Homo sapiens: one gene and its partner. The protein of the gene in region 1 interacts with the protein of each later gene in a biochemical or structural test. Each region holds a gene or a part of one and is shown on either strand. Other genes may lie near its edges. The genes, in order: PRMT7 and ASS1.

The links.
Region 2: the proteins of PRMT7 (region 1) and ASS1 form a complex in vitro, tested with the Homo sapiens proteins (one study listed by IntAct).

What each region holds. Positions count from the first base shown.
Region 1 is NC_000016.10:68,341,946-68,349,226, reverse strand, and holds part of PRMT7 (protein arginine N-methyltransferase 7), read right to left. Parts: intron 3,553-7,281; coding exon 3,425-3,552; intron 3,083-3,424; coding exon 2,947-3,082; intron 2,017-2,946; coding exon 1,933-2,016; intron 1,597-1,932; coding exon 1,549-1,596; intron 886-1,548; coding exon 796-885; intron 1-795. UniProt on the Homo sapiens protein: Arginine methyltransferase that can both catalyze the formation of omega-N monomethylarginine (MMA) and symmetrical dimethylarginine (sDMA), with a preference for the formation of MMA.
Region 2 is NC_000009.12:130,496,680-130,501,774, reverse strand, and holds the end of ASS1 (argininosuccinate synthase), read right to left. Parts: intron 2,271-5,095; coding exon 2,205-2,270; intron 800-2,204; coding exon 754-799; 3' UTR 501-753; downstream 1-500. UniProt on the Homo sapiens protein: One of the enzymes of the urea cycle, the metabolic pathway transforming neurotoxic amonia produced by protein catabolism into inocuous urea in the liver of ureotelic animals.

The DNA of each region.
Region 1 (7,281 bases):
GAAGGTGAGGGGAAAGCGACCTCCCCAGCACAGGCAGAAGTCCCGGGTCACAAGGACAAGCGGGTAGAGCAGATGAAGCCTGCAGGGAGACCGTGGGAGTAACGACGAGGTTGCTGGCAGAAGCAGTTTCAGGGCCCGGAAGCCTGACTGCAGCAGGAAGCCGTGGACGGGGAATGAAGACAGGAGTGCGGTGGAGAGGAAAGGACATGCTCTGCTCCTAGGAACCCCAAGAGAGCTGCTCTGTCCTGACCTGAAGGAGCAGAGATGAGGCTGAGCTAAGAGCAGTACAGCCAGGTGTGGTGGCTCATGCCTGTAACCCCGACACTTTGGGAGGCTGAGACTGGCAGATCGCATGAGCCCAGGAGTTCAAGACCAGCCTGGGCCACATGATGAAACGCTGACTCTACAAAAAATACAAAAATTAGCCAGGCATAATGGCACATGCCTACAGTCCCAGCTACTCGGGAGAGGTGGGAGGATCGCTTGAGGCTGGAAGGTCGAGGCTGCAGTAAGCCAAGATCGTGCCACTGCACTCCAGCCTGGACGACAGCGCGAGACCCCATTTTCAAAAAAAAAAAAAAAAAAAAAAAAAAAAGAGCAGTGCAACCATCTGCTCACCGGGCAGCTCCATGAAAGCTTCACCACACCCTTGATGGTGGGAGCTCGTAGGAGGTAAGGTTGCATGTGGAGGACCCACTGTGAGACTCCAGGGACAGGGTGGGGCCTGGGCTACTTCAGTGCCGTGCTGACCACCCTAACACAGCCCAGCGTGGCCAAAAGGCTCCCGCTACTCACCTTTCTGCCCTGTAGGTCCTCATTTGTTAATAATTCCGGCCGTTTCTCTATGATGTTAATTTTATCTTCCAAGTGGTTAGCCTTGAAGATCTTAGAAAGAAAACCGTAAAATTACTGTATTCATACTAAAGTATTGTGTTTGTCAGGAAAAAAAAATCTCTCAAAGTTGCATTCTCCGCTTTGAATTTTCCGGCAAATGGTTCTGGAACACCACTTTTATCTGCTTTGTGGAAAAATCCTCTCCTTGGGGGGCATCCTATAGACCACGGATGAGATCAGGAGCACAATGTGATAAAAGCAAAAGAAATTTCTCCCGCATGTGCACACCAGGACTCAGTGCGAGCCTGCAGTTCTGGTGAAGGGAGTTCCCCTTTGGAGAGGAAATCAAACCAGTTACTGGCCAGGGAGAGAAATGCCATCTCCCATCAGGCTGTGAGCACTGGCTCCCTCAGCACTGATGTCCCAGAAACACATCCTACATTTAATTCTACCGCAACAGTAGCTTATGTGAAGTGAGGAAAAAAGCCTAAACTTCTTCAGACACAAAAAAACAAAGCAGAGTGCAAATGCCTGCCTCTATTTCAGTGACAGCTCCCAAGGCCTCTGGCTGCTCTCCAGGCAGCAACCAAGACAACACAGGGGTGCAAGCGAGCCACCACTCCTTTGTTCCCCTGGGGCCAATGCCACTTCAAAGCCATCAACCCAGACCCCACAGGTCCTCTCACTATTTCAGCAACAACAATTCTCACTTACTTTTCTCAACAGTTTGTGAGAAGCTGCTGAACTCTCGACTGTAAACACCTAGAGGGAACACCACGCTATTAGTTGTAAGATATTCACTTAACAGAGAAGAAATTAAAGATTAAAATGCGACAAGACCATCCTAAGACAGAGGACACACCTGAACAACCCTCCCTGCCCTCATTCCCTCCCTGGGGCAGCCTGAACACCAGCTCTGAGGCCTGACGCCTGCCTGCACGCACAGGCAATAAACCCCCCAGCCCCTGACCCGAGCATGCTGTGCCCACAACAGTGGCCTTTGCAAAGAGCCTTGATCACAGAATTGTGCACCCGGACCACGCAATGCTCTAACTCACAAGCCCACATCAGGAGGCTGACAAGGGTGCATGTCAGTACCTGCTCCACCCCCAGGTGATGGGCCAGCACGGAGAGCAGGCTGCCATCGCTGACACACAGGCACACGCTGTCTGGCTTCAGCACCTGCGGGGAACAGGCAAGCTCAGCACAGGGCTTCCTCCAGTTTGCCAGAAGATTCCTGCTGGCAAGCTGTCAGAAATACTTCCCTTCTCACTCCACTTGCCCAGACCTCAGACCATCCCCCTGCGTCCTCATGCAGTAACCACCCCCAGCCACAAACATGCCCGCCTTGCTCACATCTCCCCACCTGTCCCCAGTGTCAGGAAAGACACCCCTCAACCCAGCCTAGAGGCCCCGCTGAAGGCCTGCACCACCTGCAGGCCACCTTCCAGTCCATGACAACAGGCTTCTTCCCTGTCTGGTTAGAGCACAGACAGCTGAGAGCCTCCAAGGCTTGAGTGTTCACAATTGACTGCCCAAAGGCAAGGATGCCTTTCTGGGTGACAGACCCCTCTGAGAGAAACTCAGGATGGCTTGGATCCTCCCCCCATCCCCCAAAATGCACACATTCACACCTATTTCTGTACACACCCCCAAGGGCCTCAAGAGACCCTCCCTCTAAGCCCCATCTGTAATCCCCAAGCCGAGTCCCCTGCTACAGGTAGCAGGGAGCAAAGGTTTTCAGGCAGGAGAGCGACATGATCAGATTTACATCTTAGAAAATTTTAGAAAGGTGACAACACATGAAAAGAGGGGGTGGCCTAATCCACCGTGACCACCCACAGCAATGACTGTGTCTGACAAGGCAAAGGTGTCCAGCAGGAGCCCAGCCAGAGGCTCTCCCAGTAGAGCAGAGAGCAAGCCCTCAGGAAGTCCAGCCCCAGGCTCTCCCGCTTTCTGCTCCAGTGCCCACCCAGGAGGCGCTCGCTGAAGCCACTCATAGACAAGAGGACACAGGAAAGAAACAGCAAATCATAAGCAAAGTGCTGGGGTTCATGGGACAAACTTCTTTCTCCCTTTTCCCCACAACAAGCCAAGGGGCTGGACACTTACGGTCCTCAGAGCCTGGACGTATCGATCAGTTCTGTCCTGGTCATTGATCTCTCCAAACCGAGGCCGGTTCCAGAGCAGGTGAGCCTGGCAGTCACACACGGGGCGCATCTGGCGGACTCTCTCATTCTTTTCAGGGCTAGGCCAGGAGATGAACAAACAGACGTGGGCTGTGAGCGCCTCCACAGGTCTCCAGAGGGCATGAATCTGGACACTGGTCTCCAGTAGGCATGAGGGCTTAGAGCACCCGCTAATTCCAGACTTTTCCTACGCATCTGCTCTAAACAGATTCCAGCAACCCATGACAGCCTCTCCTGGGTACACACGAATGGGCACTGACACACTGGTCACAAATCTTTGTTCTTATGTTATTCTGTCCAGACACAAATCAACCCACTGGCACCTCCAGAGGATCTGTAAATGGGGAATTTACATACAAGTCTCAGAGGCTCATCCTCCACCCCCACGAGGCTCGACGTACCTGGTCCTCTGCAGGCTGTACCATACGCAGTAGTCATCGTGGTGGGCTACCAGATAGAGCGCTGAGCCCTGCACCACAGGCTCCTCTTGTGGCAGGAAGTACACACACTGCATCCAGTGGTCCCGCCACTGAAACGGAGAACAGAGTCAGCTGTCAACGAGCTGCAGTATGAGCAATGCTTCTAATCCAGGAGCCAAATGCCAGAGAACTGCCAGTTTTCAGGACGTCCACAATGTAGACTACAGCTGGCTATTGTGGCCAAGGAGATAAATAAACTCTAAACTCAGAGGCCAGTGGCCCAAAAGTTTGCGGGAACCCTGCTGGCTTTAGGAAGACACAATGTGGCCAAGAGCAGCAATCTGCCAGAGTGGCTCAGGGGAGGGGACAAGTGCAGGCTCCAGTCCCCACCCCATCAGAGTAGCACCAAAGCTCTCTCTTCAACACGTAGAGCTGTGCTGAATGTTTCCTTTGAAGGAAAAAAATTGGTTTAAACCTAGTGGTTTAAGGGGAACCTTTTCAGAACAGTCCATGGCACGCATTCCAAAGGCTTTAACGTACTCGGAATTTACAAAACAGTCAGACTCAATGCACTAAACCTAACTGGATCGTAGACTGAGGAAACAAAAGCTATCAAGGACTTCTGGAGACAAATTTTATTTTGAACCATATGTTAGACGATACTATGGAACCACTGTTTTTCTTAGGTGTGATCATGTGTTTCATTTATGTTGCAGACTGTTTTCATTCTTGGGAGATAAGTGTTGAAGTATTTAAAAGTAAAGTGTCAGATGTCTGCAACTTACTTTCAAATGATTTAGCAATAAAAAAAAAAAATGTGCATGCCCGTGTGTGTGTGTGTGTGTGTGTGTAGAGATGCAGGAAGGGAGGCAGAAAGACAAAGATAAAGCAGATGTGGCAAACGTTAACAACTGGTAAATTTAAATTAATAAAGCGACCATCAGTGTTCATTTTCACTTATTCTGTGGATATATAATTTTTCAAAATAAAAAGGTGGGAAAATACAAAAAGGTTTTGGCTTATTCTTTGAATTAAATTGAAGTATTTAAATAACTGAATATTCTAAATTGTGAAACATGGTTGACAATGATCCACGGTCAATTTTTAATAAGCTGTGCTAGTCCTTACTACAAACCCCACATACAGGTTTCTATCCTAAGAAAACCCCAAAAGAAAAAAAAAAGTTATATTCACATAAAAATGCAAATCACAGAATTATTTATACCAGCAAAAACTGGAACCCACCCAAATGGCCAGCACTCAGAACGGGATATAAACCCTCGTGCAGAATACGGACAGACATCTTAAACGCTGCTGCTGAAGGCCACGGGGCCCGGAACAGAGATGAGCACCGATGACACCCACGCGTTTGGAGAGAGACCAAACAAAGGGAGCTATTTTGAGTGAAAGGGAGGACCATGAGTGATATTTTTATTTTATATAATGAGGTTTATTTCGCTCATAATTGTTAAGCCTCTTTTTGAAAAAGGAAGAACTGCCCTAAAAAGTAGATGCCAGCTGGACACGGTGGCTCATGCCTGTAATCCCAACAATTTGGGAGGCCGAGGCTGGCAAATCGTTTGAGGCCAGGTGTACGGGACCAGCCTGGGTAACATACCAGTGACACCCATTTCTACAAAAAACACAAGATTAGCCATGCATAGTGGCAAGTGCCTGTAGTCCCAGCTACTCAGGAGGCTGAGGTGGGAGGATCGCTTGTGCCCAGGAGTTCACAGTTGCAGTGAGCTAAGAGGTGCCACCACAATCCAACCTGAGCAATAAAGCAAGACCCTGTCTCTAACAAACAAAAACAGGAGATGCCTGGCTCAACTCTGATGAGACGACTGCCTGCTCATTCTGTCACCTTCAGGAACTAAGAAAAACTTGGCCCTGTGGGACTCCAAGAGCACAGGTAAGGAATGTGCCCACCCACCTGGTCTTTAATTTAACAAAAAGGCAGGAGAATGACATTCCCACACGCTTAAGACGCTTACTTGAACATAAAAACTAGAAAATGAAAATCTGACCAGATATGTTCTGGAAAAATAAATAGTAACAGGAATAACACAGGTTCTTTTAAACCTTTTATTCATTCCCACACTATGCAAATGCATGTGAAGAAGACAGGAGAACCCTTTCCCGACCCCTCCTAGGCTCCCATGGCACTGCCCTGTCATCATGTCCTTCCCATACTACCTACCACAGGGACCTCCTGGGTCCTAACGTTGAGGAGCTGGTGACAGAACCCACTGTGCCAAGGTGGGACAGACTAAATATACTTAGGATCAAAGCAGTTACATGAATTCATGAGGGAGATTCATTAGCAGCTTTCAAATTTCCAATCCAAAAGTCAACGCTGGTAGAGAAACAACACAAGACCCACAGTCAAGAGACCAGGGGCAGGACCCACTCTACTGCTCCTGGACACAAGGCCCCGCTCCAATCCCTGGAGCCTGCTGAGTCCCGGGTTGGCTATGGTTGTGGTTACCTTGTTTGTCTACTAAGAGGATTCAAGGAGAAAAAATACATAGTAGCGCTCCGAAGATATGCAAATTAAAAGTACTAACTTTTTTTTTTTTTGAGACGGAGTTTCGCTCTTGTTGCCCAGGCTGGAGGGCAATGGTGCAGTCTCAGCTTACTGCAACCTCCACCTCCCAGGTTGAAGTGATTCTCCTGCCTCAGCCCTGTAGCTGGGATTACAGGCGCCTGCCACCATGCCCGGCTAATTTTCTTTGTATTTTTAGTAGAGACAGGGTTTCAACATGTTAGCCAGGCTGGTCTTGAACTCCTGACCTCAGGTGATCCACCTGCCTTGGCCTCCCAAGTGCTGGGATTATAGGAGTGAGCCACCGGCCAAAAGTACTAACATTTTAATGCTATTCTTATGCTAATTCTGCAACACAGTCTTAGGAAGAATGTGACGCGGTGCCAATCTCAACTCTGTGGGTGAATTCAGAGTGACACACACACAGCCTGCAGAGGGATGCTGGCAGGCCCTGGCTGGACACACACACACCCGGGGCCAGGCACCTGGAAGGTGGAGGGGAGACTAGGAAGCTCACATACTTCTTAGTCTCACATGCTGCTGTCGGTATGGGTACGCTGATTGACAGCAATTCCCCAGCAGTCACAACCCTTCGGCCTAAACAGTAACTCTGGGAATGGGGTAGGTGAAGCTGCTAAGGCCTTCCATAATGTTGTGGACACCTAGAACCAGCAGGTGAGCATTCAACACAAAGCCAGGGGTTAAGGCCAGGCAGGCTGGACCATGGACAAAGGATGGTGCCTGAGGCGCTCCTGGGTAGAGACAGGTTCTATTTCTTGGTCCTGAAACCAAAACTGCCTTTGCGAAAAAGTGAGAAAATTATGACAGTGAAAGAGATCTCATCTAACCAACCCCCATTTTGCTTTAATGTCCAAACTGCCCTTAATCATTCCTGGGTCCGGGCCAAGCTAACTTTGGGAGACATTTGGTTAACAGTTTATTTTTTGTTCTTATTATTTTTTGAGACAGAGTCTCGCTCTGCCACCCAGGTTTGAGTGCAGTGGTGTGACCTCAGCTCACTTCAATTTCCACCTCCTGGGTTCAAGCAATTCTCCTGCCTCAGCCTCCCGAGTAGCTGGAATTACAGGCACGCACCACCACATCCGGGTAATTTTTGTATTTTTAGTAGAAGTGGGGTTTCTCCATGTTGGCCAGGCTGGTCTCGAACTCCTGACCTCAAATGATCCACCCACCTGGGGCTCCCAAAGTGTTGGGATTACAGGCGTGAGCCACCACACCCAGCTGGTTAATACTTTAAATGATAACCGTCCTTCCCCAAAATTAAACTTAAACT
Region 2 (5,095 bases), on another chromosome or scaffold:
CTGGTTTGTGGACAATGAGAAATGCTGCCAAGTTCCGGGCTTGCTCTTTTCTCCTCTCTGCTCAGGCCTCTCCCTCCTCCTTCATGATTTAGGCTGCTTTAGGCCATGCAGCTGTGGTAAGTGTCCTAGGGTCACTCATGGCCACCCTCTATAGAAGCTCCCTGTGGGCTGTGAGTAAAAGTGATGTCCAGAGAAAGGGCTGTGCGTTGATGCCCCCAAAGGGCATTCCCTGAATTTTATTTGGTTTCCTGACATTTGCCACAGGACCACAGTTGGTGACAGATTCCCAGGATGCTGGCTAGGATCGGACCCAGGCGGCACTTCTGGATTCCTAGTTTTTGCTGGAGAGGGGTCGACTGCCAGATTAACAGGCTGTCTGGCAAATGGCGGCCTTCGGCAGCACTTAGGTCCGAAAACACAAAGGTTGGCCTAAGAAAACCATAATTAACTACACACACACACACACACACACACACACACACACACACACACACACTCACTAGAAATAAAAGACTAGTGTCTCTTTTAATTGTCATTTTTATAGCTCCCCACCGCAGCTGCCCCCCACCCTTCCCTTCGATGACAACGTTTGCAGGCTTCAGGGGGACCAGGGAACAAAGCTGGGGCCTGGCAGCCCCACTACGCTGCCAGCCGGGGAGAACAAGTCACAATTACAAATTATCACAACAATTAGCGCCTGTACTTGGGGGATCTGCAAATTGAGGAGGCCCCAGCTCCTCATTGTACACGGGTCTATTTGGCAGTGACCTTGCTCTGGAGACGATGATATTCCTTCAGCCTGTAAACCAGATTCAAAACAAAGAAAAATGTAAATTAACAATAACAACACACACTGGGTTCAATTAATTCAGGCAGAGCTGGGGTGGCTGGGGCAGCTGTTTGTTAAGATGTGTGTGAAGTTGCCTTTTTTTCTATTCCCTCTCCCGCCCTGGCCCCTCCTGCCCTCCAATCAGGATAATGTAATTAATTTATCTTAGGGGGAAAACATTGTTTGTCATTGTTGAAGACAAAGCGTTTAACTGGCAATAGGAGAAATGAAGAGGCCACTATGTAAGCCCTGTTTGTTCTGGGCCATTTAAAAGGGTTTATAGAGTCATAAAATACAAACAGAGGGCGCAGGAGGCAGGGGAGGTGGAGGTGACGGAGGGGAAGGGAGAGGACCCTGGGCAGATGGGCGGGCTTCAACATCTCTCGGGGCATGAGGTGCCTCCAGGGACAAGAGACTGGCTCTGGGAGAAAATGATGGCTCTGTGCCCAGGGCATGTTGTTAGCAAGAGGAGACTGACTTGCATCTTCTTCTAGACTCCAATCCCCATGAGAAGGGAGCTGGTGATGGAGAACCCACAGCAGGACAGGCCCTCCGGACTCAGCTCCACCACCTCCTAGCTGTGTGACCCTTGGAAAGTTACTTAACCACTCAGCCTGTTCCCGGGGAGTTGCAAATTTTGTGTAAGAATTAAATGAGACATCCTAGGAGAGTGTCCCAGAGCAGCTTAGTCTATGTTAGCTGCTGGTGACAAACGACCCTGTTTGCCCTTGAGCACACCGGCCCTGGGCTGAGTGTGCTTGCTGCTGGCACTGCCCCTGGCTCTTCCTGCATGCCAGGGTCTAAGCCTGAGCCGCATGCTTGATTTCCACAGGCTCATATTGAACCTTCACTGCATCTGTGAGGCAGGTACAGCTGACACTCTTACTGGTGACTCACAGAGGATCAAAGGTCTGAGTGACTTCAGATGACGTGCACCACCCTCCTGGGCCATGGAGATCCACGTGGCTAGGATGGCTTCCAGCTAGACCTACAGCTCAGGTATGGTGACAGAAAACAAAGGCTTCTCTCCACCTCTATGCTATTTCCTTGTTTAACCTGCCCTGCAAAGGAGCTCATAGTGGAGTCCCTGTGGCTTAGCGGGAGGGGAGGGCAAGTATCAGAGGCACCCGGTGGGACACAGGAACCTAGGACCCCAATGCCTAGGACCCTCTGTTACTGTCGGCTATCAAAGCATGCTTCTGAGGATGCTATGGGCAGATGGACAGGAAAGTGGGGTTTGTCTAGGGCAGGGCAGGGCAGGGCAGGGCAGCAGTCAAGGTCGCATCAAAGCCTACCCTTTACACCTGGGGGCTCTCAAAGCCTACCCTTTACACCTGGAGGCTCTGAAGGCCCGTCAGGGCCCTGAGCTTCTCACCTGAGGGAATTGATGTTGATGAACCCGGTGGCATCAGTTGGCTCATAATCACCCTGCACGTTCATGCTGCAAGGAGAGTAGAAGCTTGTCAGCTCAGCCTGGCCCTGGCCTCTGCTTGAAGGGAGGACTGCTGGGGCCAGAAGCAGCCCCACCTCCCAGATGCCAGGGCATTTCCCCTGTGTGGGTCCAAACCCTCCCTGCACGTCGGCTTTCCATTGAATTTCTGTACAACTCAGGGAACCCTGTTCTGGGCCAGGCACCCACCCAAAGGTTGGAGAGCCCTAGTGGAGCACACAGCAGCCTCTTCCCTGCTACACAATGTGGCAGGAGGCTAGGAGCAGCCACCCCAGAACTAGCCCTATGAATTCCACCAACCAGAGCACTCTGTCTGTAAATGGGTAACTCGTCCAAGCCAGCTGTGCCCTTGGGACTGTGTGGATGGCATGCAGTGACCTGAAGGCTCAGGAGGCCTTGGGGTGTGAATTGCAATAGCACAAGGGCATTTCGCAAGCTGCAGGGAGGCCTCCAGCATTCACAGCGAGATGGGCCCACCAAGTCACCTTTCCCCTCATGTGTCCAACCAGTTAGACCTTACCTAATCCATCCTGAAACCTGGGCACCCACTGCCAGTGTGTCATGGAAAATGCTGGGTTGACTGCTGCTGTACTCAGCAGAGCAGATTTTACCTCTCTACAGTTTCCACCTCTCAGACTCACCAGCCTTCTGCTTTGGGGCTCTCCACCCTTAGCTGCTCCTCCCAACCTTCCTAACCATGGCAGTCACTCCAGCCAGCTGACTGGGGTTTGCGTCCTGTTTCCGCCACCCGCCACCAGAGAGCCCAGGCCAGTATTCCTGCACTCGGAGCCTCAGCCTTGCACTTGTGAAATGCGTGATGGTGGTTAGCTCTCAGTGTCACATTTGGCCCCACATGAAATAATGTAGCTGGTGCCTGGCACATGGTGAGCACCCACTAGTACTAACAGTATTCATTCACTCATTCATTTGTTCAGGCATTTATTAAGCCCTTGCTGCCTGCCAGATGCTGGGCCAGGTGCCAAGGAAGGAAGAGCAAGAGTGGTGTCCACAGGGAGGGGCCAGACCGAAGCAATCAATCACCCATTGCCTTCATTAATTATGGTTGTGCTAAGCACTTAGGGCACGTGGACTCAGATGCCTCCTACTCCACAAGGCCAGCCTCTGAGCCTCTGAGAGGATGGGGTCCCTTGTCATGTCCTGCTCTGAATCAGACCCTTGTCTGCAGAATTCCAGCCTTGGGACAAAGCTGACTCAAGGTTCTCGAGGTAGGGGTAGCGGGGGTCGGTGTTGGGAGGCAGGAGGATCTGCTGCTTTGAGACCCTGAGGCTGGCCCTCTGACTGGTTCTTTGTAGACAGTGGACTTTTTACAAGAACAAATGAGGTCTCTGCATCTGCCTGGCCCCAGTGATTTGTTCAGGACCCGGGCCCTGACCTTCACCAGGCCTTGAAGCCGGTGGGTGCGTGGAACTCTCTGCAGAGTCACTCCCATGCTCCTGTACCTCCTTGATGTCCCTTCCTCCCTCCTCCACACCTCCACGGCCCCTCCAGGGCTCAGGCACTGAAGCCACTAGGAGCTTGCATTCCCTGGAAGAGGAGGAGATACCAGACTTTTGCTGGCCACCCCTTTCTGTGCAGTCAGTGCTTAGGAAGAGCTAGACCAAACTAGACCACCAACCTCCTCAGATCCCTTCAACAGACCTTGTTTTAGAAACCGAGCCTCAGCCCCACTGGCCCCTATACTCAGCCCAGGGAGAACGTAGGACACAGAATCCCCCCACCTCTGTGTCCATCTGTCCCTTCACCTCCATCTCTCACAAGTCACAACAAACTCTCCCCATCCCGTTCCCCAAGGTGGGAACTTCCCAGCTGCCCTGGCAGCCCCTGCAAAGAGGGCCCACATCCAGGGACAAACTTGTCCCACGAGGCTGCTGGGAGTTCCAAGAGGGGTTTCTCAGGAACTAAAAAACCTCTTTTTAAAATTGTGGTTTGAAGTGAGCGGGGAGGTGGAAAAAGAGTTTACAATGATTTTTTTCTTTTTTTTTTTTTACCTCCCCTGACGGTCTACAGAAAACCTCTGTGCTTTTATTTTTGCTCATTCGAGTGGCTCTGACCTGCTCTATAATTACGTTACTTTCTACCTACTGAGCCACGGCATTTCCAGCTCTGCTACCTCTCACGGCTTCCTCGCTGGTCCCTGTGACGCTGTCACTCAAGGGCTTTCAAGTCAGCGATGTAGAAATCAAAAAGAAAAGGGAAATGGTCGGAGACACAGTGAGAATAAATGCTCCTGCTTTTCTCTCTTTTTTCCCCTTTCCCTTTTTACTTTATTCATTTAATCTCCCTGAGTGAGACTGTAAGGCTTAATGAAGGGTTGGACAGATTATTAGAGGCTGTTGATTTGGAGGGGGAGGGAAGAAAGAGCCAGAGAGAGAAAGAGAGAAGATAATTTGACATTTACCCCAACTGATCTAAACTGACTCAGTTGTATTTATGGCTTATAAAGTGTTTAGAAAGATTGAAGCGGGGAGAAACTCAACATGGCAAGGAGAAGGGAAAGAAAAAAATAATATTGACTGCCAAACAAGACTCGTACTTTAATTCCCAACCAGCCTCCAGGAGGGAGGGGCTGGCCTTAGCCTGAGCTAAGCTGGGCCTTAGGGGACCCACGTCTAGTGGGGGCTGTCTGTCCCACAGGGGCCTGCCCCATCTCTAGTTTGGCCAGGTGACCTCTGGAGGTGACACCTCGTCCCTTGGTGCAGGTCACTCTCATCCACGGGGCGGACACAGGAGTGGCCAATCGTTACCTGCCACCTTTGCCCTGGCTCACCAGGGCCCTCCTGCCCCTCCAGGGGCTC